Homo sapiens: one gene and its partners. The protein of the gene in region 5 purifies or fractionates together with the protein of the main gene of each other region. This does not show direct contact. Each region holds a gene or a part of one and is shown on either strand. Other genes may lie near its edges.

Region 1 (3,500 bases), on a different chromosome or scaffold from region 5:
CCGAGCGCCACAGCCTGCACCAGAGGGACTCTGACGGAGGGCTTTCATTTTCACCCTTTGGTTGGGATTTATAGAAACAAATGGAGACTCCTTTCGAGCATGGTGCTTCAGGAAGGGAGGGGACGAGAGCCCTGGGCTTGTGGTGTCCACGTGGACAGCTAATGAGGAGCCTTGCCGATGAGGAGCATGCGTTCCCGACGGGGCGGCCGAATGCGGAAGGAGCCGCCATTCTCTCCGCCCTGACCGCGGGATTCTCTGCAGCAGATGAGAAACGGCGCTGACTCAGCAGGGTCCCTCCCAGGCCCCGAGCGGTCATCTGGTGACCCCCGCGCTTCCCCCACGGCCCAGCCGGAGAAGGGCAAAGGGAAGTCCCGGCTCCAAGGCGCACCCAGAGATGCGGTGCATGTGGCAGGATGGCCCAGCCCCGTCGGCAGCCCCAGCTTCCTGCCCCTGGTTTCCTTCCTCCCACGGGCTACAGGCCTCTGATGAGCTTTGGAAAGCAGGAAACACACAGGCTAGTAACTATGAATGGGTCCAAAAAACACTCCTTATTACTTTAAACTACTTAGGAAGAAGCACAGCGTTGCCAAACGCCAGAGCCCGGGAGCAGCAAAGACCCCACCTCCAGGGCTCACCCTGGCCTTTCCTGGACCTGCCTATGGGCTCGCTGAAGAAGCCTGGCACCCCTTGAGTTCATCCCACAACACGGAAACCCGAGCCAGGCCCCAGAAGCTGACCTGAGGCTGTGGAGAGTTTCAAACACTAAGAACTCCAGGAGCCCCCTCAGCAGCCCACAGCCCAGGGCCCTGCTGTCACCAAGGAACGCCCTCCACACCCCTCAGTGACGGCACAGCCCGGAAGCAACAAAACACGGCGCTCCAAACATGAAGTTGCTCCTGGCCATAATGTGCCTTTTCATTCTCCAAAAGGAAGCTGAGTCTCTACAGCATATTCCAAACACGAGCGCACCTTGCCCAAGAAGGTTCCGGAATATGCCTGCCACTGGCAAGGGAAAATGGGAGGCTGTCTAGGAAATCAGGGCAGCACTCTCTTCTGGTTCCCAGGACAACGTCCTGAGAGCCCACCACGCTGAGACACGGCCCCACGCGCCTTCTTTTCCCCACCTGGGCCAAACCCTCACCCGCCATTCCCAGTGTCAATCCCTCGGCAACTTCTCCTCCCCAGGTTCAAACACCAGCCCCAGTTGGACTGACCCCACTCCTTCACATCCTGCGTGGACTGGCACAGAGAAAGGGAGGAAGAGGCTGAAGCGCCCAGCAAGGTCCCGGGGACCCAGCCCTCCCCCGAGTGTGGACTCCCAGTGCGGGCCCAGCCCCTGCCAGGCTGGAGGTATCTGTGAGCGGCGAGCTCTGAGGGCGCGGCCTCCATGCAGGGTGTACCCTACCCCAGGTGCAGTCAGATCTCCCCCAGAGCCAGCACAGGAGCCACAGAAGCCTGGACCACCCAACGAAAGGACGCGGGCAGCACTCCTGACACCGCTGCTCACAACCGAGAACTCAGAGGCCGCGTGGGGGCCAAACAGTCCCTGCTGCTGGGGGAGGCGGTTTCTAGCCCAGACCACGCATGCCAGGGTTCAGGCACAACTCTCAACAGGGCAGGGTCTGGGGCTCAGAACAGCTTCATGAGAAGCCGCGACAGCTGAAGGAGGCTGAATGACTGATGTATCTGTGTGTCTTCTGAAGAGGGGATTTAGAAAAGTCCATGTCCAAGCAAGACACGCAGGGCAAGGAAGCAGCAAGTGAGAAGGTGACGAAAACGACAAAAACCACCTGCAACCAGCAACAGCAAATAGGACAGGGAAATATACAAACACCAACAAAAAACGACACCTCTCCAGGCTGGCACATGGCACTGGAGGACAGCGGGGAGGGTAAAGCGATCAGCGGCCACCTCCCCAGGCTAACCAACCCGAGGAACCATTACACCGCAAACCTATGCCTGGGTGGGGGCAGATGCCATTCGGAGGAAACCACCCAGCCGTCCCAGGGAAAGTCAGTCTGTGTGCGAGGACGGGACCCAGCCCGGCGCCTCCTGAAGACTGCAGTGTGGAGCTGCTGTCCACTCTGCACAAGGGCCTCGCCTCAGCTCCAGGAGAGTCTCATCTTACCCTCCCCAGGGACGCCTCTCCCAGCGCGGGTCTCCCCACTTCTAAGACGAGCCAGGGCACACTGCAGCTGACGCGGAGCAGCTGGGCCCAGGGGCCTCTGTCCGGAGCTCACGCAGTGGAACCACCGTGTTTGGTGTCAAAGGCATAACCTGAGACACACTTGGTGTTTTGGAATCTTTTTTGTTTCTGGCAGGCAGAAGTGGACTGCGGTCACCCCATGCAGGTAAAGGTTGGAAGCTCAGGCAGGAGTTCCAGGCAGCACAGAAGAGCACCCACCCGGCAATTTTCTTCCAGTCCTTCACATGTAGCCAAACTGGTTTGACTTTTCAGGGACTTTGAATGAATAGACAGCTGGCTATCAGAAATGGGGGCCTCCCCAGCCCTGGGTCACCGGTCTTCTTCCAGGACACAGCCAAGGACTGGAGTTGGGGCCTCTGCTACAGAAACCCTATACAGAGACCTCAGTGAGGAGAAAAGGGTCGCCCTGCAGGCCACAGCTCTGCAGACCCAGGAAGGGGCCCGCCCAGGCACGGTGCCTCCTGGCATCCGGTAGGCATCTTTCAGCCCAAGTTGCATTAGGCCATCTCACTGTGGATCAAACTTAACAGTGAACTTCACTTCCTCAAATAACAACAAGAAAAGACTCTGACAGCACCATTCTCATCAGGAAGGGAGGAGAAGGAATACATCCCCTCCGGTTCTGAGGGCCGAAACGAACGCAGGACTCTCTGTGGCAACATGAAGGGGACTGGGAGGAAGTGGAGGCTGGGAGGCCAGGACCCACGTGTGGACCGTGCAGGTGTTTTTATTTTGTTTGGCCCCCTGGACCCCTAAACACCATTTCCTCTCCCGCCACCTCCTCACTCTGCCGCGGGAGCTGTGAGCCCGGGGGGCAGGATGGCCTTCTGCAGGGAGGACCTAACATCCCAGCCGCACACTGGCTGGAAGGTCCAGAGCCTTCATCACAAGGCCAGAGTTTTCACCAAAACCCACAGGGCCAACTCCTGAGAACACGGATGCTGGAATTTCAACACCCAGGCTGGATGCCCCCAGAATGGAACGTGGAGCCGAGAGGTGCCGAGCCTGTGGCGGGCAGGGAGACAGCGCGGGCCACACAGCCTGTGGGCAGACGGGAAGGTGAGGGATGGCGCCCTCGAAGACAAACAACGTAGAAAATATTCCACACTGAAATGAAGCAGAAAGCGCAGCCTTCTCTCCTGGCTGAAACAGCATTAAAGCAAGAAAGAACTAAGGGAAACAAAACTGCAACCAACAGCATCAGGGGAAGGACACAGCCACTGGGAGAGGAGCCACTGAACTCCAGCAACAGCCCAGGCCTGAGGAGCTTCCTCCATGGAATTCCGAGTTGGGG
Region 2 (3,500 bases), on a different chromosome or scaffold from region 5:
GACCTCGTGATCCGCCCACCTCAGCCTCCCAAAGTGCTGGGATTACAGGTATGAGCCACCGTACCCGGCCTATCTTTCTAATTCTTTTTAAAAAGAAATTATGCCTCCTGATCAACCATAATCAAGTTTTAAAATGGGGAGCCAGAATCCAGTGTTCTATTACAGAGCTCCAAAGGTTAAGGTGCAGGTTCTCTATTAAGCTTACTATCTGAGAGTAAAAATCAAACTCATGTTAATGCACTGTAAATAGTTTTGATTCATATCATTTATGCTTGATTTAATAATAGTTTGCTGGTCAAAGGATAAGCAATTCATCAGAAAAACATTTAAAGAGTTAAGCTTCATCTAGTTCATTTTTTAGACATCTTGTCTTTGGCTGAATTTAATAATCTTACTGACATTATCATCATTTAACTGCTAAAGGAGAACAAAAGTTAAATCAAGCAAAAATCTTACCAAATTTTCATTTACAATTCCATCACTGGCTGCAAAAAAGGCTAAGATGTGAGAGATGAAGTACTTCTCATCTGCTTTAAGCTTGTTCCAGTGAGGGAGATCCTTTGATAAGTCGACCTGGAATAAAAAGATTTTCAAAAATTTTAATTTGGAGTTAAGTTCTTCTCAAAGTGTTTGGGAAACTAACTTCTATTGTTAAGTAGGAATATCCCACTACCAGTAAACTATGGAAAAAGAAAGATGTTAGCACTGCAAAGAAATAAAAAAAAAAGTTATGTTAACAAGTGTATTATATTCAGGATTTTTGTTAAATGAGTAGATTACAGCTATTCTTGGTGGGGGGGTGAACAGCTAAACTATGTGAGGCAAAGGAAATATTAATTTGTTACATAATGGGTAACCATTTTATTATATATATATATATATAACATCATGTCATACACCTTAAACATACACAATAAAATTTATCTTTAAAAAATTAAGATGGAATCGAATTTTCTGGCTAATTAAGAAGCTGGCCAGGATGTACTTTAAAAATATTCAAATTAACATAATCTAGTGGCACTGAAGCAAATGAAAGAAGGGCTAAAAGGGGAGGGGGGAGAGTAAAAACTAGTCAAGAAGGCACTGAAGTAAATAAACTAATGAATCTCAACAGTCACTGCTTTAACATTTTATATAATATGTGCTATGGTGTTAGATAATTAGGCACCTATTAACCAACTGTAGCTGCTACTTTACTGCCAGGTAATCAGTCTACTTTTACATCCAGAAGTAATGCCAGGCAGGTAACAACCTGAGTTTTGTTTTGTTTTGAGATGAAGTCTCGCTCTGTCGCCAGGCTAGAGTGCAGTGGCATGATCTTGGCTCACTGCAACCTTCGCCTCCCAGGTTCAAGCAATCCTCCTGCCTCAGCCTCCCGAGTAGCTGGGACTACAGGCAGGCGCCACCATGCCCAGCTAATTATTTGTATTTTTTAGTAGAGACGGAGTTTCACCATGTTGGCCAGGATGGTCTCAATCTCTTGACCTCATGATCTGTTTGCCTCGGCCTCCCAAAGTGCTGGGATTACAGGCACGAGCCACCACAGCTGGCCTTGTTTTGTTTTTTTAAAGAGATGGGGTCTCACTATGTTGCCCAGGCTGGTCTCAATCTCCTGGCCTCAAGCAATCCTCCTACCTCAGCCTCTCAAAGTGTTGGGATTACAGGTGTGAGCCATCACAGGTGGCCAACAACCCAGTTTTTTTTTTAAAGCAGTTTATACATAGGTATGGCTTCCATTGGGAATGGAAATATTTTTGAAAATGTTCATTAGAATTAGTCTTTGGAATTAAGGGAGACGTACTTTAGAATTTGGTGAAACCTACAATTTAAAAATTGTTTATTTTTTTAATTTTTGAGATGGGGTTTCACTCCGTCACCCAGTCTGGAGTGCGGTGGCACAATCTCAGCTCACTACAGTCTCTGCCTCCTAGGCTCAAGCAATCCTCCCACCTCAGCCTCCAGAGGCACAGGTGGGACCACAGGCACACAAAACCATGCCTGGCTAATTTTTTGTATTTTTGGTAGTGACAGGGTTTTGCCATATTGCCCAGGCTGGTTTTGAACTCCTGAGCTCAAGTGATCTGCCCGCCTCAACCTCCCAAAGTGCTGGGAGTACAGGCCTGAGCCACTGCACCCAGCCAAAAATTGTCTTTAAATGTACCTTCCCTTAGTCAGTTCTGGGGGCTATAACAAATTACCATTGACTGGGTTGCTTAAACAGCATACTTTTATTTTTCTTTTTGAACATTTCTGGAAGCTGAAAGCCCAAGATCAGGATGTCAGCATGGTTGGGTTATTGGTGAAGGCCCTCTTACTGATTTACAGATGGCCACCTTCTTGCTGTATCCTGACATAGCAGAGAGAGAGAGATCATATCTCTCATGTCTCTTAAGGGCACTAATCCTATTCATGAGGGCTCCACCCACATGACCTAATTACCTCCCAAGGCTCCACCTCCAAATACCATCACACAGCATATATAGACATCATTTTGATAGGGACAGGAGGCAGGGAAATTCTGGGCAGAAGAAGATGGTCCCCAGCGAGGACTCCACCCTCAATCCTGGAACTGCAGCCCAAAGTGACATGTATTCCTGTTTTCCCACTATAATGTTGCCCTTTCCAAAACCACCCATGGCCCCACTCCCCTACCCTGTGCCCATAAAAACCCCAGGCTCTACCAGCAGAGAAGAGGAGAGGAGAAGAGGAGAAGCAGCTGGATGTCAGAGACTACGGTTGGATGTCGGAGAGAAGCAGCTTAACTTCAGAGGGACAGCTTGACAGCATTCCTTTGGAGAGGAGTCAGCTGGGGACGGCCAGACAGACTCCAGGAGAAGATTATTTTTCCACTCCATCCCCTTTCCAGCTCCTCTTCCCACTGAGAGCCACTTTCATTGGCAACAAAATCCTCTGTATTCACCACCCTTCGATTTGTTCATGTGATCTGATTTTTCCTGGATGCTGAACAAGAGCGTGGGTGCCACAGGTGTGGATGCTAAAAGCTGTCACACTGACCCTCTGCCCTCACTGGTGGAGACCAACTGCCCCATGTGAAAAGGCAGAGGGCCCACTGAGCCGTTAAAACTTAAGCCATCTGCGGACAGCAAAAGCTAAAAGAGAGTTAACTATAACACATTCCTTCTGGGGCTTCAAGGGTTGTGGGTACTCCTCACAGATGCTGCCATGAGGCCTGCATGGAGTTTTGCTCCTGCCGGTGCCCAAAAGAATTCACCCAAGCTCCTGCACCTGCTCACCTGCATGCTCCCTCCCTCAAGGGGCTGAGCGCAATGGGTTCAAGTGAGTGGAGTTTGCCCCTGCCAGCGCCAAAGCAGCCAGCTAGCTCCAGCATGCGCATTCCAGTTCCCACCCACGAAGGGATCGGAGAAACTATCCTGCTTCAATTTTGTCAGAAAAAATCTTTTAAATATTTTTCATAATTAACTTCATGAACAGTTGAAATATGTAATTGTCTTTGTCTTTTGCCTTTCTTTTATTTACTC
Region 3 (3,500 bases), on a different chromosome or scaffold from region 5:
GCGGATGCCAGCTCAGCTGTGGGCTTCTGCTCCTCCCTCCGCCTTCTCCCCAACCAGGTGTCAGGGCCCTGGGGGCCAGGAGGGCAAGTGCCTCAAGCAGGCAGGGGGTCAAGGGATAGTGCGCGCTGCGGGGCGCATGAACATCCCCACTCTGGCCATGGCGGGCTTCTAGCCTGACAGCCTCCCTTCCCCACCAGCTGGGCTGGGGGACAGGTGCCCCTGCCCCATCTCAGGGGCTGATCTGAGGGACCACAGAGCTACTTCCTCCGGCTCAGGCCAGGCCAGCCTGGCCCCCTCTGGTTGTACCAGCCCTGAGCTAGGAACAAGGAAAACAGGAAAATGATCCCAAACCCACAGCCCCACCTGAGCAGGAGGCCACCAAACACAGGTCTGTCTGCAAAACTCAGGATCCAATACAGAGCCCAGGCGCCAGCCAGGCCCCTGCCCCACTGGGCGGAGGGGCAGGCAGGTATGGCCAGCCCAGCAGTCCCCAGAGACCCCACAAGGCCAGTGGCTCAGTTCTGCTGGAATCAGTCTCACAGACACAACCTCCTCCTACCCTTGGAATCTTCTAGAAGCTGTTTGCCCCCCTCTACCCACTCTGTTTCCGTCTCTGTCCTCCTAGGCCCAGCTCACCTTCCCCTCCTTCCCCTCTAGCCCCGCCCCCTCCTCTCACCCCTGCAGGCCTGGACCCAGGCTCAGGGCCCTCCCTGCTATGCTGTGGGCTCTGCCTGGGGGGATAAGAGTAGCCTGTTCTGAGCCCTCCTTTGTGTCAGAACTGAGAAGGGTTTTCACCTCCAAGGCCACCCTCCCTTTCTGCCCTAACAATAGCCCCAAGGAGAAGGGATCGGTCTCCCTGCTGAAGGAAGCCAGCGCTGGGGGCTCAGAAACCCAAAATGCAGTCTGATGTGAACTGACGCAGCCGCAGGTCTCCCTGACCTCCCCCTTCTGCCTCTCGACCCTCTGCCTCCTCCAAGCTCAGGATGCAGCTGCTCCCTGAAGCCCCCGAATCTGCCTAAAGCCCATAGCTGCTGGAGAAAGGAACAGTGACGGCCAGTCCCCTCCCTGAGTTTCCATGCACTGAGGTCATCGTAGGAAGAAAGACCTGTGTCTGCCAACACACTTGGGCAGGTGGTCACCAGGGCTAACAGATGCTGTCCAAGCCCATTGAATCCCCTAAAAACCATTCATGGCCGTGCACAGTGGCTCGCGCCTGTAATCCCAGCACTTTGGGAAGCAGAGGCGGGTGGATCACCAGAGGCCAGGAGTTCGAGACCAGGCTGGCCAACATGGTGAAACCCCGTCTCTACTAAAAATACAAAAAACAGCTGGGCGTGGTGGTGGGTGCCTGTAATCCCAGCTACTCAGGAGGCTGAGGCAGGAAAATTGCTTGAACCTGGGAGGCAGAGGTTGCAGCGAGCCAAGATTGTGCCACTGCGCTCCAGCCTGGGCAACAGAATGAGACTCTGTCTCAAAAAAAAAAAAAAAAAAAATTCCTACCCCCCTAGAATCATCCAGGCTGCCCATGCCCCTTTCCCTGGGAGGAGGGCAGGTCAGCATCTTCGCCCTACCTCTCCATGCCTATTCACAATGAATGCCAGCACCTCTGCCCTATTAATCCGCTTTTCGCAAGTGGATTCTTCCAAGAACCTTCATGGGACGGAGGGGAAGTCTTCCCTGGGCCGCTATATCAGAATGTCTCATCTCAAAATCTGCCTCTTAGATGTGGATGTTTCTGAGCTAAAGCCCACTAGGCAGCAGATTCAGGGAAGCTCTCAGCCTTGCCTCCCTTTGAGAGGAAAGCAGCACACAGCATCCCAAGACTAAGGCTCCTCCTGTTACCGCCTGGACAGGATGTAAATGCCCCTCACAGCCCTCAGGACCCAGAGACAGCCCCAGGACCCGCGCCCACCCACTTCATTCTTTTTCCCATAAACTCACCCTCCTGCATTCCCCCACCTCCGAGGGCCTCACGCTGCGTCCCTGTACCCCTCGGCTTCTCCATGTGCACTGGTCTCTGCTGGGCTCTGCAGAAGCCAGGACTCTAGGCACGGCAAAGTGCCTCTTCTCCCCTTTTCCAGGACACGCCCTGCACCGATGAACCTGTTTTCTGTCTTTTGCCACAGGAGTCTTTCCCAACCACAAATGTGTGGGGGTTCCGGAAAACCCTAATTTCTCCCCTTTGCCACTTAGAAGAAGAAACTGAAGGTCGAGCAGGTGGCAGGAGGGGTTTGTACGGACACAGCCCAGCCTGCCTAGAGAGGCCCCCACACCCAGCTCCCCAGGGCTCTGAGACCTGCTTCCTAATCCAATACTGGCAGGGCCCCAGCCTGGCCACAGGGAGAGGACGGGCCAGCACAGACTGCCCACTCACTCATTCATTCACACAGTCCTGCAGAGGGAGGGCTGGACAGGCTGCTGTTCCCTGGGGCCAAGATGGGGGAACTGAGACCCAGGGCGGTGAGTGGTCAGCAGCGAGCAGTGAGCAGTGAGGGGGGTGGGGCTGAGTGCCTGGGGCTGCAGAGCTGGGGTTGCTACATTTTATATAAACAGCTACATATTACATAAAAAGTGGCAACAAAATAACAAAAGACCTTGTCTTGTGGAATGTGGAAAACCACCTGACAAGGCAAGAATGCAGCCTGTGAGTGCGTGGTGTGGCCCAAGTGTGTGAATGCGCCTGTGTGTGCACATGTGTGAGCGCAAGTGTGGGTGTGTAAATACCCAGGACGGAGGGCGAGCCCCAAATCTCCCACGGGGACTGGGGCTGAGGCAGTAGGGCATCCGCTGCTCCTGCGGGGACACAATGAACATAGACACAGCAGAGCTGCTGCCAGCGGCTGCCCCCCGGGTCTGGGTGGTGAGGCAGGAGGCTGGGGAGGACAAGGGCAGAGGCGGTGAGGTCCCTGGCCCCCACTCACAGAGGCCTCGGGGCGGGACAAGGGCCAGGCTGGGGGACACCAGGCAGGGGTGTGGTGGGTGGGGCCTGGCCCGTCAGCGATCACTGTAGGCAGGGCCTCGACTCCTTGTCCACCCAGCTCCTTCCCTGCCCCCAGGCCCGTGCTCTGCAGCCTCTGAGCCTCCAGCCGGGCTGAGTCCCAAGGCAGTAGGTCTTCTTTCTGCAGATGCCTTTGGCCTGGCCCCAAGCTCCCCCTCACACTCCCCAAGACCACATACCCATCAGCTCCTCCAGGCCAGGACCACCCCGTCTCCCAGTGTGACCCACACAGAACACACCTCGGCATGCGCCTCAGGAGGTCCCCACTCCCTGCACACACACAGCCCACCTTGGCCTTACCTCGTAGATGAGGAAGACTTTGGCACCCACATAAATGCCCATGCGCGTCACAGCCCGGACAGCAGCGTTCATGCCTGTGGAGGTCAGGGCAAACCTGTCAGTCCCACGCTGAGAAGCAAGGCCCTGGACACCCTCCCCATCTCAGAGGACAGGGGGTAGGGGAGGCCTGGACACCCTGTCCATCTCAGAGGGCGGGTGGTGG
Region 4 (3,500 bases), on a different chromosome or scaffold from region 5:
CCTTTCTCTCCAATTCAGCCAACTCTATTGTGTTTTCCTTACCTGAGGACATTGGGGTGCTGTCAGCCAGACTTGCTTGACATTCTATAACTGAAATCTAAGGCATCCAAGACGTAGTAAGTTTTACATACTTTACCTTTTTGTTTTTGCTGAACCTATTAATATGAATGGGCTGATCAGTTATTATAGCTTCAAAATACTGATTTCCAAAGACTGACAATCCTTTAAAGGAGGAAGGCCGTAAGCAGACAAATCCTACCTTGATCCACAGGCAGTGTCCTGAACTGGACACTGGGACTATATGGCCCGGGCCCTTTGCTCGTATGAGCACGTACTTTTACATCGTATGTGGTATCTGGTTTTAAGCCAGTGAGTGTCATAGTGGTGTCAGCTGGAACAATAAGCTGCTCCATCGGGAGAAGGGGGATGTTGATATCCCTATAAAGAAGGGTATACTTGGTGATAATGCCATTTCTCTCTGCCAGGACAGGTGGTTGCCAAGATAACTGGACGGAGGTTGAAGTGGTGCCTTCTGAGTGAAGGTTTTGAGGGAATCCAGTTGGTACTTCTTCTGGAATGGAAATCTCCTTCACCATCTCCTCCCCAAAGCCCACTTTGTTTCTGGCTGAGAGCCTGAAGACGTATGATGCTCCCTTGTGGATGTCTGTAGCTGTAAAGTGATCTTCTTTTTCAGAGAACTCAAGAGTAGTAAGTGGCTCCATATCCTTGCGGCCAAATTTTAGACGGTAGCCCTGAAGAGGTCCAAATGTGTCCACCGGAGGGTGCCACTGAATAAGAGCAGTATTCATCTGAGTGTGGTTAATCACAAGCCGAGGTTTCCCTGGAACTGGAGCACATGGGATGGAGTGGTAAGACCAACCAATCTGAACGTTCACATTTCAGTCATTGCCAAATGAGGGAGTTCCACTCTACTGGTATTCCCATTTTCTTACTTACCAAAACAAAACAAAACAGGCAATGTTTGACCTACATACCTTTGTGGAAATATGCTCCTTGTCTTACTTTATTAAAGTAGGCTGAGATACTAGAATTTGATAATGGACACAAAACAGAAATTATCATTGAAACAACAGCTTAAGGGGATTTTTTTGACACCTGCACGTTTTAAACCTTCACACATAAAGGTTCATATCAAAGATAAATTAATTTGAGCAAAGATCAGCCAATTAGATATGGCTAATAAGAATAACTATAATGATTATTTATTCGTTGAATATGTGCAATGTACCGGCGTCACGCTAAGTGCATTGCATATAGTATTCACAATTGGTTTACATTCCTGACTCCTCACTACATTCTCGGATTAGTTATTATTATCTCTATCTTCTATAATGAGAAAATGAGGCCCAGAGAGGTAGAAAACTTTCCAAGGCTAGCATGTAACAAGTGAGAAATCTATAAGGCAAACCCACCTCTGTCTGGAGTCGACTGCTTAAATGCTTAATTGTGCTGCTATGTTGCTTAAAAGTTTAAAAAAAAACCAAACTACAAAATAATATCGTATTGACTTACTATGAATTTAATTTGCACTTTCTAACTTTACTATCCACATCATTCATCAAGTTCTTCATCTGTAAAATGGGAATTATATTAAGAGCTATTTTATATTGTTCTTATGAATAATAAATGAGGAAATTCATGTAAAAGTCTTAGCATGAGGTTCTGCATTCTATCAATATTAACCATAATTATTAATAATCTGAATATTAAACTTCTTATGGTGAAAGGCTAGCTTCCAATGAATACATAATTTATTTACCTTTAAGTTAGATATGTGAAAAGGTCTAATCTACTCATTCAATGTATTATTATGTCTGTATTTATTTTTAATGGAGAGCAATTATTATTGGAATCCACAGTGAAAGACATTGAGGGATGATCATCAGAATAAAAACTAAACCAAGTTAACAGAAAGAAGAAGAAAGGCCAAGTATGGTGGCTCATGTCTATAATCCCAGCACTTTGGGAGCTGAGGTGGGAGGACTGCTTGAGCCCAAGAGTTCAAAACCAGCGGCTGGGTGTGGTGGCTCACACCAGTAATCCCAGCACTTTGGGAAGCAGTGGATCACCTGAGGTTGGGAGTTTGAGACCAGCCTGACCAACATGGAGAAACCCTGTCTCTACAAAAAACACAAAAATAGCCAGGTGTGGTGGTGCATGCCTGTAATCCCAGCTACTCGGGAGGCTGAGGCAGGAGCATCACTTGAACCCGGGAGGCAGAGGTTGCAGTGAGCCGAGATCATGCCACTGCACTCCAGCCTGGGCAACAAGAGCAAATTCCGTCTCAAAAACAAACAAACAAACAAACAAACAAACAGCTTGGCAACATAGCAAGACCTTATCTCTACGGGGGGAGGGGGGAAGGCATGGTGTCACATGTCTGTAGTCTTAGCCACTCAGGGGGCTGAGGTGGGAGAATTGCTTGAGCCAAAGAGTTTGAGGCTGCAGTGAGCTATGATCACACCATTGCTGTCCAGCCTGAGTGACAGTGAAACTGTGCCTCAAAATTATGAATGTGAAGAAAAAGAAAGATGGTAGGAAAGGAGGAAAGCTTACAGTAATGGGAAACAGGTGATAAAAAATCATACCATGGGGATATAGATGAAGGTAAAAAAATCACTAAAAAGATTATGAGACAATACATAGAATATTAACCTCAGAGATGGACTGATTAGCCTCTTCATTTTGTATTTCAGAAAGTGAAACCCAAGTGGAGATGTGCTCTGCTCTAAGAAATATCATTAAGATATTTATTTCCTTAACCAATGGAGCAACAGTTTTGTTTCACATGCTGGGAAGATTCATCACATGCTGATATAACTCAGCTAATCTACAATGTATGAAAACAATAGTTTCTAAAGTTTTTAGATAAATAATTATTCAACAACATGTGTGCTGTGTTATACATATAAAACATGTGTGTTGTGTTGTATATATAAAACATGTGTGTTGTGTTGTATATATAAAACATGTGTGTTGAAGGTAGGCCCAGGAACCACATCATTGTGTACTCATTGTGTTCCTCAGGAAAAATGCATCCAGAGATCTTAACGACCAACACACACTCTCAGAACACCACCCATCCATAAGTTGGAAACTGTGTGAACTATTCCACTTGCTTTTAATATATTTACAATTATCTTAATTTTAAAATAGTACTTTAATGTAGGGACATTGGCAGACATCTTTAATTCCCCTTTATGTGTATAGAGCATTTACATGATTTGTCCAAATGTCAGTGATGGTGTCAAGGATTAAACACCTGAGTCTCTGCTGAGAAAAATCCATGGTGAAATAGAGCTTTCAACAGAGAATACAGCCTTCAATATATGAAACTCCGTTGAAACGAGTGGGTGGAAACACAACTATTAATTCTCAATATTCTCCAGAGGCAACAGATTAAACATATTTATTAAAATTTTTTGAAATTCTAGTTCCAACGAACTGCATAATAATATATACACCGTGTATCCTGTTTC
Region 5 (2,685 bases):
AGAGAGGGCAAGTGTGTGTCAGCTAAACAGACTGTAGCCCCAGGACCACAGCAGCCCCAAGCCAAGTCACCACATCCCCAGGATCCTCCAGCCCCAGGACTGTGGTCATCCCAAGAGCCCCAGGGGCCCTAGGTCTCTTGAGACTTTTTTCTGTTAGAGCTGGGCTTCAGGACAGGCACCCGCCTTACCCCCAGACTCAGGCCCCCAAAGCCCAACAGCACCCACTACTGACCCACACAGGCCTGACTGGACGTGAGGGTCTTGCAGCCACTGCTTTCTGGAGGTACGGGCAGCCCCTCAGGGGCGGTGCCATAGAGTACGAGGGTGAACTTGGTCAGCGTCCCTGTTCCAGAGCGGGGAGGAGGCAAGAGTTAAGACAGTGCTGGCACCACACCCAGTGCTCGAGATCCTGCCAGCCCTCCACCTCGTACCCCTACCCCTCAAGTGCCCCCAGTACCATAGTTGTTGGCTTCGCTGGTGTTTTCAATCTCTAGGACCCACTCGCCAGAGGGATCCTCATCCCAGGAATGAGTTGTCATGAAGGCCCAGTCATTAAACCCATCTGCGGAGTAGTCATGTGGCCTGGGGAGGGGAGTGCACACAGCCCTGAGGCCTCTGCGGGACCCCAAGCCAGGGACATCTAACCCACAGCACATGGGCCACACACCCTTCCCCCACGCAGACCAACCCCATGGGGCCAGAAGTGCCTGCTGGCTTGGCTGTTTCTCAGTGAGCCAGACGTGCTCAACTGGGGGATTCTAGAAAGGTACACAGGCACCGCACAAGGTGGGGCACACTACTGACATTAAATGGTTGCAAGCCAGGGATTCCTGCAACATGGGACAGTCCCACAGGACAAAATTGTCCCTCCCAAAATGCCAAGAGTGCCCCACTGAGTAGCACTCAGTGCCCCCTGGGCCGTGTGAGCGAGCAAAGGCAAGCACGCGGGCTGTGAGAGGCGGCGGCGCTGGGCAGGGCGGGCAGGGACAGAGCAAGCACCTGGCTGCCAGCAGGGTGGAGCGGGTGCCCATGGGGCTGACCAGGTGGATGGCCAGGTCGCCACGGCGATTATAGGACAGGGTGAGCCGCGCCTGAGCGTGCTCCAGCCGAGTGATGTGGTTGGGCTCGCCCAGGCACGCGGTCACGGTCTTCCGCACCTCGAGCCGTTTCCCGATGTCTCTGTGCAGGAGAGCACCATGATGGTCAGCCTGGCCCAGAGGGACCAGCGGGCACCCCCTGCGACTCTCAGGTCCCACTGGCCCCCTCCCAGCCTGGGTCCAGCCCTCACTTGGGCTCGGTGAGGATGTCGATGATGCACTTCCGCTGGGGGGCCACTGTGGTCCAATTCTGGGCCAGGGCCACCATGGCGCCTGCGTCCAAAAGCCCGTAGCCATATGAGTGGCTCACTGTGGGGACAGGGAAGGTAGGGTCAGCTGTCAGGCACAGAGTGCCTTCTACCTAACTCCACATCCAGCCTGCCGGGCCAGCCTGCCCTCACCTTTCCGGCCCACACCATTGGTGGCCCAGTCGTTGGCATTGAGGTGGGCTGGCTTCGAGGTCTGTACCACCAGGTGTTGCATGTCCCGCCATGTGAGGTTCTTACTGCAAAGAAGGAAGGGAGAGGCTGGGGATCAGTCTTTTTTGGGAGCAGCTCTCCAGCTGCCCTAAGGGCTGCCCTACAGAGAGTGCTGGTAGGGACAGGGTTGCCGCTGGCCCCCACCCACTTACTTGGCCTCCAGGGTGAGAGCAATGATGCCGGCTGCTAAGGGGGCAGAGGCTGAGGTGCCCGTGTGAGACTCCGTGCACTTCTGCCGCAAGTCAGTCGTCACCTGCCAGGAAGAGAATCATATTGGGGCCTGTGATGGGTGGAGGGGGCTAGAGGAGCCACCTGCCTACCCTCCCTCTGCATACAGGCCCTGGGCACCACAGATGGTATGGGGAGCCAGGGCCAAGAACCCCAGGTCCCAGCTGCTGCCTTGCTAACTTGCCGTGGACATGCTAATGACGAGCCCCTCCTGGGCCTCATTTTCCAAAGGAATAAGGGGGTTCAACTAGAGGGTGGAGATGAATAAGAACAAAGTATGTTTTTAGAGAGAGTCTAGGCTTTTCAAAGTCTTCAGAGATGGCTCCATGGCCTCCAAGAACCTACAGAGCCCCAGAGTTCATGTTGCATGATGCCTGAGCCACTATCACCCAGCCACATGGGGGTGGAGGCAGACAGCCTCCAAAAGAGGGTGCTGGACAGAGCCAGCCAGCAGCCCCATCTCCCCAGCCCCCACCCCCAGGTAAGACTCACGATCTGCTTCTCATTCTGGTTGCCACTGCTGTAGGTCGTGGCCAGTGTGGACGAGCAGGCCTCGCTGTACCACGGCACGTTGCCAAACTGCGTGGCGCTGCTGATGGACAGCGTGTAGATACTGTTGGTGTAGCCGTCGCAGTTGCAGCTGTCATGTTCCCGGCCCCCGTTCCCCGAGGCCCAGACAAAGATGGAGCCCAGCCCCCCTCGGCCCTGTGGACAGAGTGGGCTGGGGTCATTCAAGATTGGGACTTGAGGGAGGGCTGGCAGGAGGACACTGCTGGAAAACTGGGAAGGCTGGAGCCTCATTCTCTGGGAACCTCCTGTCCCCTGTGAGATCCCTGGTGGATCAAGTATGTATCCAAATATGTCTATCTAGGCACACAAAA
Region 6 (3,500 bases), on a different chromosome or scaffold from region 5:
AGCCCCTCAGAGCACTCACTAGGCAGCTGAGTCGTTGAGCTGGTATTCCCTTGAGCGGCCAAAGCAGGCCTGCACACCATGGTCAGCCCAGAGCCTCCGGATGACGCCGGACAGGTCATCAGGGAGCACGCCTTGCTCCTCGGCGGTGCAGGACAGTGCAAATAGCTGCCTGGCGTCGTCCTGGGCACAGTGGCGGGTGGTCAGGCAGTTGAAGGAATGTACCCCCACTCTGCCAGAGGCAGGGAGACCTCTGGAATGGGGCCCAGGCTAGGGTATTCTTGGATTCCCTAGGATGAGACTTGCCCTAAAACCTTTTTGTTGTTGTTGTTTACTTTTTTCTGTGACGGAGTCTAGCTCTGTCACCAAGGCTAGAGTGCAATGGGGCGATCTTGGCTCACTGCATCCTCTGCCTCCCGGGTTCAAGCAATTCTCCTGCTTCAGCCTCCCAAGTAGCTGGGATTACAGGCACGTGCCACCATGCTCGGCTAATTTTTGTATTTTTAGTAGAGACGCGGTTTCACCAAGTTGGCCAGGCTGGTCCTGACCTCAGGTGATCCACCCGCCTCGGCGTCCCAAAGTGCTGGGATTTATAGGCATGAGCCACCACAACCAGCCACCCCGAAACCTTTTGGGAGGTGGGAGAGGGTGGGGCGGAGGGCACATACCGCTCTGGAGGGGTCGGCAAAGTCGATCTGCAGGTTGCCCATGGCTTTGACAATGGCCATGATGGACTGGATGGTGTTGCTGTAGACAACCGCCCGGTACTGCCGGCATTCCTCCTCGGAGTAGCCATCCTCGTGGATGATCCTGATAGCCAGGGACCAGGAAGGTTAGTGTCCCCTGGGCACTGGGAGTTCCCACGGCTGCCTGGGGCTACTGGGACCTGCTTCAGAGAAGGGAAAACTGCCCCTGACCCACTGGGACCTGAGGGTCCTTCTGCTTCTCAGAAGATTCTGGGCCTGGCTAAGACTGGCTGGGCCTGTAGTCGGGGGCAGTGCAGGCCCAGAGGGTGAAGAGGGGAAGCTGGAGTTTGAGCACTGCCTCTGGAATACAGCACTTACTTCATCTGCTTGACGATGGTGCTCTTCCCTGACTCCCCAGCACCTGGAACAGAGGGCACAGGTGGTCAGGGGGCAGGCCCAGAGGGGCTCCACAGGCACAGAACAAATGCCCAGACACCTGTAGCCCAGGAGGCAGAACTAACCTTCCCACCAGCTGCACCGTGAGATGGAGGCAGCTGGGCCTGGTGGGCAGTTGAGCTACCAGGAATGCAGCTGGCAGGGCCACAGTGGTCAAGGTAACCTAGAGCACCTGTGCCCCATGGCAGACTCTCTGCAGGCCTTTGCCTCCCACAAGCTCTGCTGCCCACCATGGCTCCCCACTGTCCTGGGGGGTCTTGGCTGGAGACTTGGCCAGCCATGAAGGAGCCACCCTGTTCTCACATACATAGGCTCGCCAACCTGTGCAGCTGGTGCATGCCAATATGGTGCCCTGGGCAGAGCTGGCAGGAAGATGCCCTGCATACTCCATCCAACAGGGTAGCAGCCCTTCTTCTCCCCACACTGAGCCTTAGCAACCAGGGGCCTAAGCAGGAGCACAGCGTCACACTTCAGCTTTCTGGACATGGCCCAATGCCCCGCCCTCTGCTCACTGCGCTCAGGTCTGCCCTGAGCAGATGGAGGCTAGAAGGCTAGAATCTAGGAGACCTACAGTGTAACACACACGCGTACTGACTCATGAATCTGGGAGACCTGCGGCGTATCTCACACACCCACACCCACACACGCCCATACTGACTCAAGCTTTTCCCTGGCCTGGTACAGCCCTGGCCCATATTTCTCTTTAGCTGGTACTGAGATTTGCTGCATTCTCTCCTGTATTAGTCACAGCAGATACTGTTTCTGTTCCCATTCTACAGATGAGGACATTGAGGCTCAGAAAAATAAAGTATTGATCTAAGATCATGTAGCCAGGACTCAGAAGGGCAAGAGGGTGGAGGGAACCCATGATGCCTGGTCCACCCTGCCATTCTCAAAATGTGGCTGAGACCCTGCGGGACAATGCCTTGGGGAGGTGTTTAAAAAAGCAGATTCCGCCGGGAGTGGTGGCTCATGCCTGTAATCCCAGCACTTTGGGAGGCTGAGGCAGGTGGATCACCTGAGGTCAGGAGTTCGAGACCAGCCTGGCCAACATGTTGAAACCCCATCTCTTCTAAAAATAACAAAAACTAGCCAGGCGTGGTGGCAGGTGCCTGTAATCCCAGCGGCTCGGGAGGCTGAGGCAGAAGAATCGCTTGAACCTGGGAGGTGGAGGTTGCAGTGAGCCGAGATTGTGCCATTGCGCTCCAGCCTGGGCAACAAGAGCGAAACTTGGTCTAAAAAAAAAAAAAAAAAGCAGACTCCCAGGTCCCATCCCAGACAACAGAGCCAGATCTTGAGGAGTGCAGCCCAGGAGCCTGTATTACCCAGGGAGTCTGTGTAAAGAAGGACCAGGGGGGCCACCCAACTCCCTGGCTGGGGGCCAGAGGGAGTGGAGGCAGGGCCTCACCTTGACCTTGCTCCCTTGCTGCTGGCTTGTCTTGAGCTCCAGGTTGAATGGCCCCCAGCTGGGCCCTGCTGTCCTTCCCAGACCCTGTGCTCCTGCTCCATCACTGCCAGTCACACCTGCAGCTGCCAGGCACTACCTCTAGCTATCTCCAGGGCCCTGCTCATGCTGTTCTCTTTGCCGGGAATACGTGCCCCATGCCCCATTCACAGTGTCCCAATTCTGATCACTGTGGCACGTTTGTTCCTCTGTGCAGCTTAGCTGGGTGGGTAGTAAGGTCTGTGCAGAGGTCAAACTTGGGTACTCTGGCCAAGCTCAACAGCATCCCTTGGGGCTGGTCAAAACAACCTCAGAGGATGAAGGTGCTAACACACAAACGAACACAAGCAGTAACAATAACATCGGCAATATCGACAGCAAAGCTATATGAAAACAGCGCCCACCATGTGCCAGATGCTGCTCTACATCAATGACACCCACCAACTGCCATCTCCACAGCAATCCTGGGAGGTAGGTTCCATTCTCACCCCAATCTAACCAGTGAAGGAACTGAGGTCCAGGGAGGCTGAGGTCACAGGGTTAGAGTCCCCTCTGCAGGGAGCACACTTGCCCACCGTGCAGTCCCTCCTAGAGCTGTCCTAAGTACCTGGTACTGCAGCGGAGCCACACAGTCCACCTGGCACTGGGTTCACTCCCTAGCTCCCCAGGCAGACTCTGGGCCATGTCTGCAGTGCTCAACAAGCGGCAGCAGGCATTGGGACATGGTGGCAGGCCTTGCCAAGGCCCCTGCCCACCTTCAGCCCCCTACGCCAGAGACCACCCTGAGGGGAAAGGCCTGAGCCCTCCTCACAAATGCCATCAGGCGCCTGCAATCACTGAGCTTCTGACTGTCCCAGGCCTGCTTTCCAGGATGAGGGGAGGGGATCTGGGGAGATGGGGAGTGACAGCTAGTTGGG
Region 7 (3,500 bases), on a different chromosome or scaffold from region 5:
ATGAAGGGCTTTGGGTGGTGGCAGGCGCTCAACACTGGAAACTCTCCTGCAATACAGACCCAGACCCAAAGACTCCTTTTTATCAGGCTGTGCGGGGTCTTTACCTTATTGGCTTCGGCTATTTTCATAGCAGTGTAGCACTCAGCATCTGCCTTTGCCTTCTCCCGGGCCAGAAATGCAGCATCTGAGGGGGAAGGAGTGCAGTGAACTTGGTGAAGTGCTAAAACTGAGTTCTTTGCAGGAAGTGCAGAGGCTATGGGAAGACTCTGTTCTGGTCCCTGGAACTTCGCCCCTGATTGCCTCTGTGACTTGGGGCAGACTGCTTTTTCCTCTGTGTTTTACATGCATTTTCCCCTATTGTACAAGTTGTTGTAAGGATCAACTAAGATGAAAAAGTGTTTTGAAAGCATCTCCCTATGACAAGGACAGCAAGTCTGTGGCTATGGCCCAAACATACATGTTGACAGCACTATGGAAGAAAGCACTGTTAGCCAGAAGCGCTTCCTGTCTTACTTCTTTTGGAGATCCATGTCTGTGTAGCACAGCAGTGGGACCCTGCCTCAAGCTCTAGGCCAGAGCTCTCCACTCCTCCCTCTTGTGCTACATAGCAAAAGCAGGAAAGCTCAAAGGTGGCTCTAAGTACGGTCAGAGGTCGATCCACCCTAAAACTGAATGCCACGAACATAACATAGTTCAGTCCCTCTCCAACTTCAATTCCCTTTTATTTCCATCAATCATTTCAAAAAGGTCCTAATTAACAGTGATTAAGCTGGCGCGATTCTGAGAGAGAATTACACGCCATGGTCCAGACCAACACGTGTTTGGATTAAGACCTATTTAATTCCTCTATGCAAGTCATATTCTTCCCTAATCAGCTCTGAGACTAGCTTTCTGTCAAGCTGATAGAAAATTTTTGATATTTACCTCCTTGTCTTGGGAACGGGCCAGCCTCATGTGAGTAATATATGTAGCAACATGCCTGGGAGAAAGGTTAGTCTGTGGGTGGGTTTTCACTGAGTGCCCTCAGTGTGACCCCGCGTGGAAGGAACCTGCAGTCCAGCCAGGGTTCTGGCTGCTGTGGGGCCCCCTCAGCTGGCCTGAGCACTTGATGACATGTATTTGTGAGAAATAAAAACGTGTTGCTTTGCTAAGAGCTCCCTAATGAGGAGCCACTGATCTGTGAAATCCTAACTGGCTCCTCTATGGGCCCCTGCAAAGCCTGACAGGCCCAATAATGAGTATAATTAGACATAACACTTTGTAGCCTGAAGCTGGGCCTTGAGGTCCCAGTTGTGCCTTGGAATTTGCTTGAAATAAGCCACCCCAAGAAGTAAGAGGTGGGCAGTGGGAAGGAGGTGCAGGCTTAGAAGCAGGAACAGAAGGTGAATGATATTCAGAAAAGCCAGCAAAGAAAACCTTTCTCTCCAGCTCCTGTCTGACAGGTGCTGAAAATCTGTCTTCTTCAAACCTGGCTTAATATCTGCATAGACCTGGAGAACAGACTTTGAGCCCAAAACCGTGGCACTGACCAACTTTGGAGCAGAAGTAGCTAAGGCAAGGGGGAGAGCCAACTGCTGAGAGTACACTCCCACCGCTCCAAGGCCCTGCTAGCCTGGGAACTCCAAGAAAGCAGGGTCTACGGGACTTCCTTTTTCTCATGCCTAACAAAATCCTGGGCACATACTGGCACTCCAGCCACATTTGCTGAATGAACAAATGCTCTCTGAAGTAGAAAACAGATGCTAGCCTGGCCACAATAGCCTCAAAACTCAAGTCTCCACATGGAGAAAAGCTGCTGTTGCACAGAGATCATGACATCCTTGAGCACAGTTAAAGGGCAAAGGCAATGGCTCCCCAACCCACTGGCCACAGGGCGGGGTCTGAGGAGGACTCAGGCATGACTGCCACTTCTGCTTACCTTCAATTTCTGAAATCTTCTTCTCAGTCTCCTTCTCCATCACCTTCTGCCCGTAGGTGATCTCAGCCACCTGGGCCACTTTTTCTGCCTCTGAATAAATGATAGTGAGGATTACGGTTCTGGCATTTCAGAGTTTGACTAATTTCACCTTTCACCCGAGCTGAGTGTCCTGGTGGGCCAGCTTGTCTGGAGAGCCCCCAGAGGGCAGCTGTGAGTGCACACAAGGGCAGAGTGGGATATGCCAGTGAGCACAGTCCCCTTCCATCAGTGTGAGACAGTAACCAAGGAGACCTGGGCCCAACATAGGAAGCATGAGCCCTAACTTCACAAGGGAACTTCTCCCAAAGGAATATTCTGTAAGAATGAAGTACTCTAGTAGGGTTCTACCTGGCCCTTCACTGTAGACAGGGGTCAGGTTAGTTGTTGATAATACGGTGCAGTGACTTAGAACATAGCTTCTAGAGCCAGTGTCCTTGGTTTGAACCCCAGTTCCACCCCTTACTTGCCATATGCCCTTGGGCATGGTATTTTACCCCTCTGTGCTTTGGTTCGATAAAATGAGGTTAAGGATAATACAGTACCTACCTCCACAGTGGTTGTGAGGGTTGACTTAACCCACATATTAAGTGGTTAGAAAAGTATGTGGCTCACAGTAATTGCTTAATTAAGTATTAGCCATTATTATTAAGAATTAACAGGCTGGGCACGGTGGCTCACGTCTGTAATCCCAGCACTTTGGGAGGCTGAGGTGGGCAGATCATGAGGTCAAGTGTTCGAGGCCAGCTTGGCCAACATGGTGACACCCCATCTCTACTAAAAATACAAAAATTAGCCAGGCGTGCCGGCACCCGCTGTAATCCCAGCTACTCAGGAGGCTGAGACAGGAGAATCACTTGAACCTGAGGCAGAGGCTGCAGTAAGCTGAGATCGTGCCACTGCATTCTAGCCTGGGTGACAGAGCAAGACTCCGTCTCAAAAGAAAAAAAAAAGAAAGAATTAACAGGTGGGGCTTCTTTCATTTAAGAGTTAAGTGGAAACTCAAAAAACTCATTATCCTTGGCCATGATCTGACAATTTCAACTTTGTTTCTGGGAGTCCACCTGCCACTCCTGTGCTGTGGAAGTGGTTTGGAGGACCATGGGGTCTCACCAGGCCTTAGCCTCCTTGCATCTTCCCACCACCCCCAGCCTTTCTGCCTGGAAAGGGGGATCACAGAACCACATTCAGACCAATGAGCGCCTTCTTCCGCTCTGTCTCTGCTTCCTTTTCCACCACCTTCTGTTTCTGGGCGGCAATGAGAAGCTTTGTCTTCTCACTTTCCCTGAAGAGAAGAAAAAGCCGTGAGGCAGCTATGGAAAACTCAGGAGCTTCACTATCCCCAGGTAAGTCGAATTCTTCTGCTGAAGAGAGGCAAACTCCCATTTCCTACTCCTCCTGGAAGGCTGTTCGATGGCCCAGGTAAAAGCTGATCTGTTGTTGACAGTAACATAGCTCTTCTCCTCCCAAGTAACTCATTTGTGGGAAATAAAACATAATTTAGTAAAATACACCTGCCTGTCCACTTACTGGTCTCTTGCTCCTG

What was found.
Region 1: the proteins of FURIN (region 5) and SLC38A10 purify together in Homo sapiens (affinity purification with mass spectrometry; one large-scale study listed by BioGRID and IntAct). This does not show direct contact.
Region 2: the proteins of FURIN (region 5) and RRM2B purify together in Homo sapiens (affinity purification with mass spectrometry, with the first as the bait; one large-scale study listed by BioGRID). This does not show direct contact.
Region 3: the proteins of FURIN (region 5) and PFKL purify together in Homo sapiens (affinity purification with mass spectrometry, with the first as the bait; one large-scale study listed by BioGRID). This does not show direct contact.
Region 4: the proteins of FURIN (region 5) and PTPRD purify together in Homo sapiens (affinity purification with mass spectrometry; one large-scale study listed by BioGRID and IntAct). This does not show direct contact.
Region 6: the proteins of FURIN (region 5) and GNAI2 purify together in Homo sapiens (affinity purification with mass spectrometry, with the first as the bait; one large-scale study listed by BioGRID). This does not show direct contact.
Region 7: the proteins of FURIN (region 5) and ERLIN2 purify together in Homo sapiens (affinity purification with mass spectrometry, with the first as the bait; one large-scale study listed by BioGRID). This does not show direct contact.

Annotation. Positions count from the first base shown.
Region 1 is NC_000017.11:81,285,308-81,288,807, forward strand, and holds part of SLC38A10 (solute carrier family 38 member 10), read right to left. Parts: intron 2,043-3,500; exon of another isoform or gene 2,038-2,042; intron 1-2,037. UniProt on the Homo sapiens protein: Facilitates bidirectional transport of amino acids. May act as a glutamate sensor that regulates glutamate-glutamine cycle and mTOR signaling in the brain. The transport mechanism remains to be elucidated.
Region 2 is NC_000008.11:102,225,462-102,228,961, forward strand, and holds part of RRM2B (ribonucleoside-diphosphate reductase subunit M2 B), read right to left. Parts: intron 574-3,500; coding exon 457-573; intron 1-456.
Region 3 is NC_000021.9:44,306,553-44,310,052, reverse strand, and holds part of PFKL (ATP-dependent 6-phosphofructokinase, liver type), read right to left. Parts: intron 3,373-3,500; coding exon 3,299-3,372; intron 2,794-3,298; coding exon of another isoform or gene 2,725-2,793; intron 1-2,724. UniProt on the Homo sapiens protein: Catalyzes the phosphorylation of D-fructose 6-phosphate to fructose 1,6-bisphosphate by ATP, the first committing step of glycolysis.
Region 4 is NC_000009.12:8,485,503-8,489,002, forward strand, and holds part of PTPRD (receptor-type tyrosine-protein phosphatase delta isoform 1 precursor), read right to left. Parts: intron 848-3,500; coding exon 260-847; intron 1-259.
Region 5 is NC_000015.10:90,878,588-90,881,272, reverse strand, and holds part of FURIN (furin isoform 1 preproprotein), read right to left. Parts: intron 2,510-2,685; coding exon 2,297-2,509; intron 1,830-2,296; coding exon 1,729-1,829; intron 1,603-1,728; coding exon 1,499-1,602; intron 1,407-1,498; coding exon 1,289-1,406; intron 1,180-1,288; coding exon 1,000-1,179; intron 583-999; coding exon 458-582; intron 344-457; coding exon 233-343; intron 1-232. UniProt on the Homo sapiens protein: Ubiquitous endoprotease within constitutive secretory pathways capable of cleavage at the RX(K/R)R consensus motif. Mediates processing of TGFB1, an essential step in TGF-beta-1 activation.
Region 6 is NC_000003.12:50,249,704-50,253,203, reverse strand, and holds part of GNAI2 (guanine nucleotide-binding protein G(i) subunit alpha-2), read right to left. Parts: intron 1,585-3,500; exon of another isoform or gene 1,531-1,584; coding exon of another isoform or gene 1,461-1,530; intron 1,105-1,460; coding exon 1,062-1,104; intron 808-1,061; coding exon 666-807; intron 181-665; coding exon 20-180; intron 1-19. UniProt on the Homo sapiens protein: Guanine nucleotide-binding proteins (G proteins) are involved as modulators or transducers in various transmembrane signaling systems.
Region 7 is NC_000008.11:37,750,134-37,753,633, reverse strand, and holds part of ERLIN2 (erlin-2), read right to left. Parts: intron 3,240-3,500; coding exon 3,148-3,239; intron 2,009-3,147; coding exon 1,919-2,008; intron 185-1,918; coding exon 105-184; intron 1-104. UniProt on the Homo sapiens protein: Component of the ERLIN1/ERLIN2 complex which mediates the endoplasmic reticulum-associated degradation (ERAD) of inositol 1,4,5-trisphosphate receptors (IP3Rs) such as ITPR1.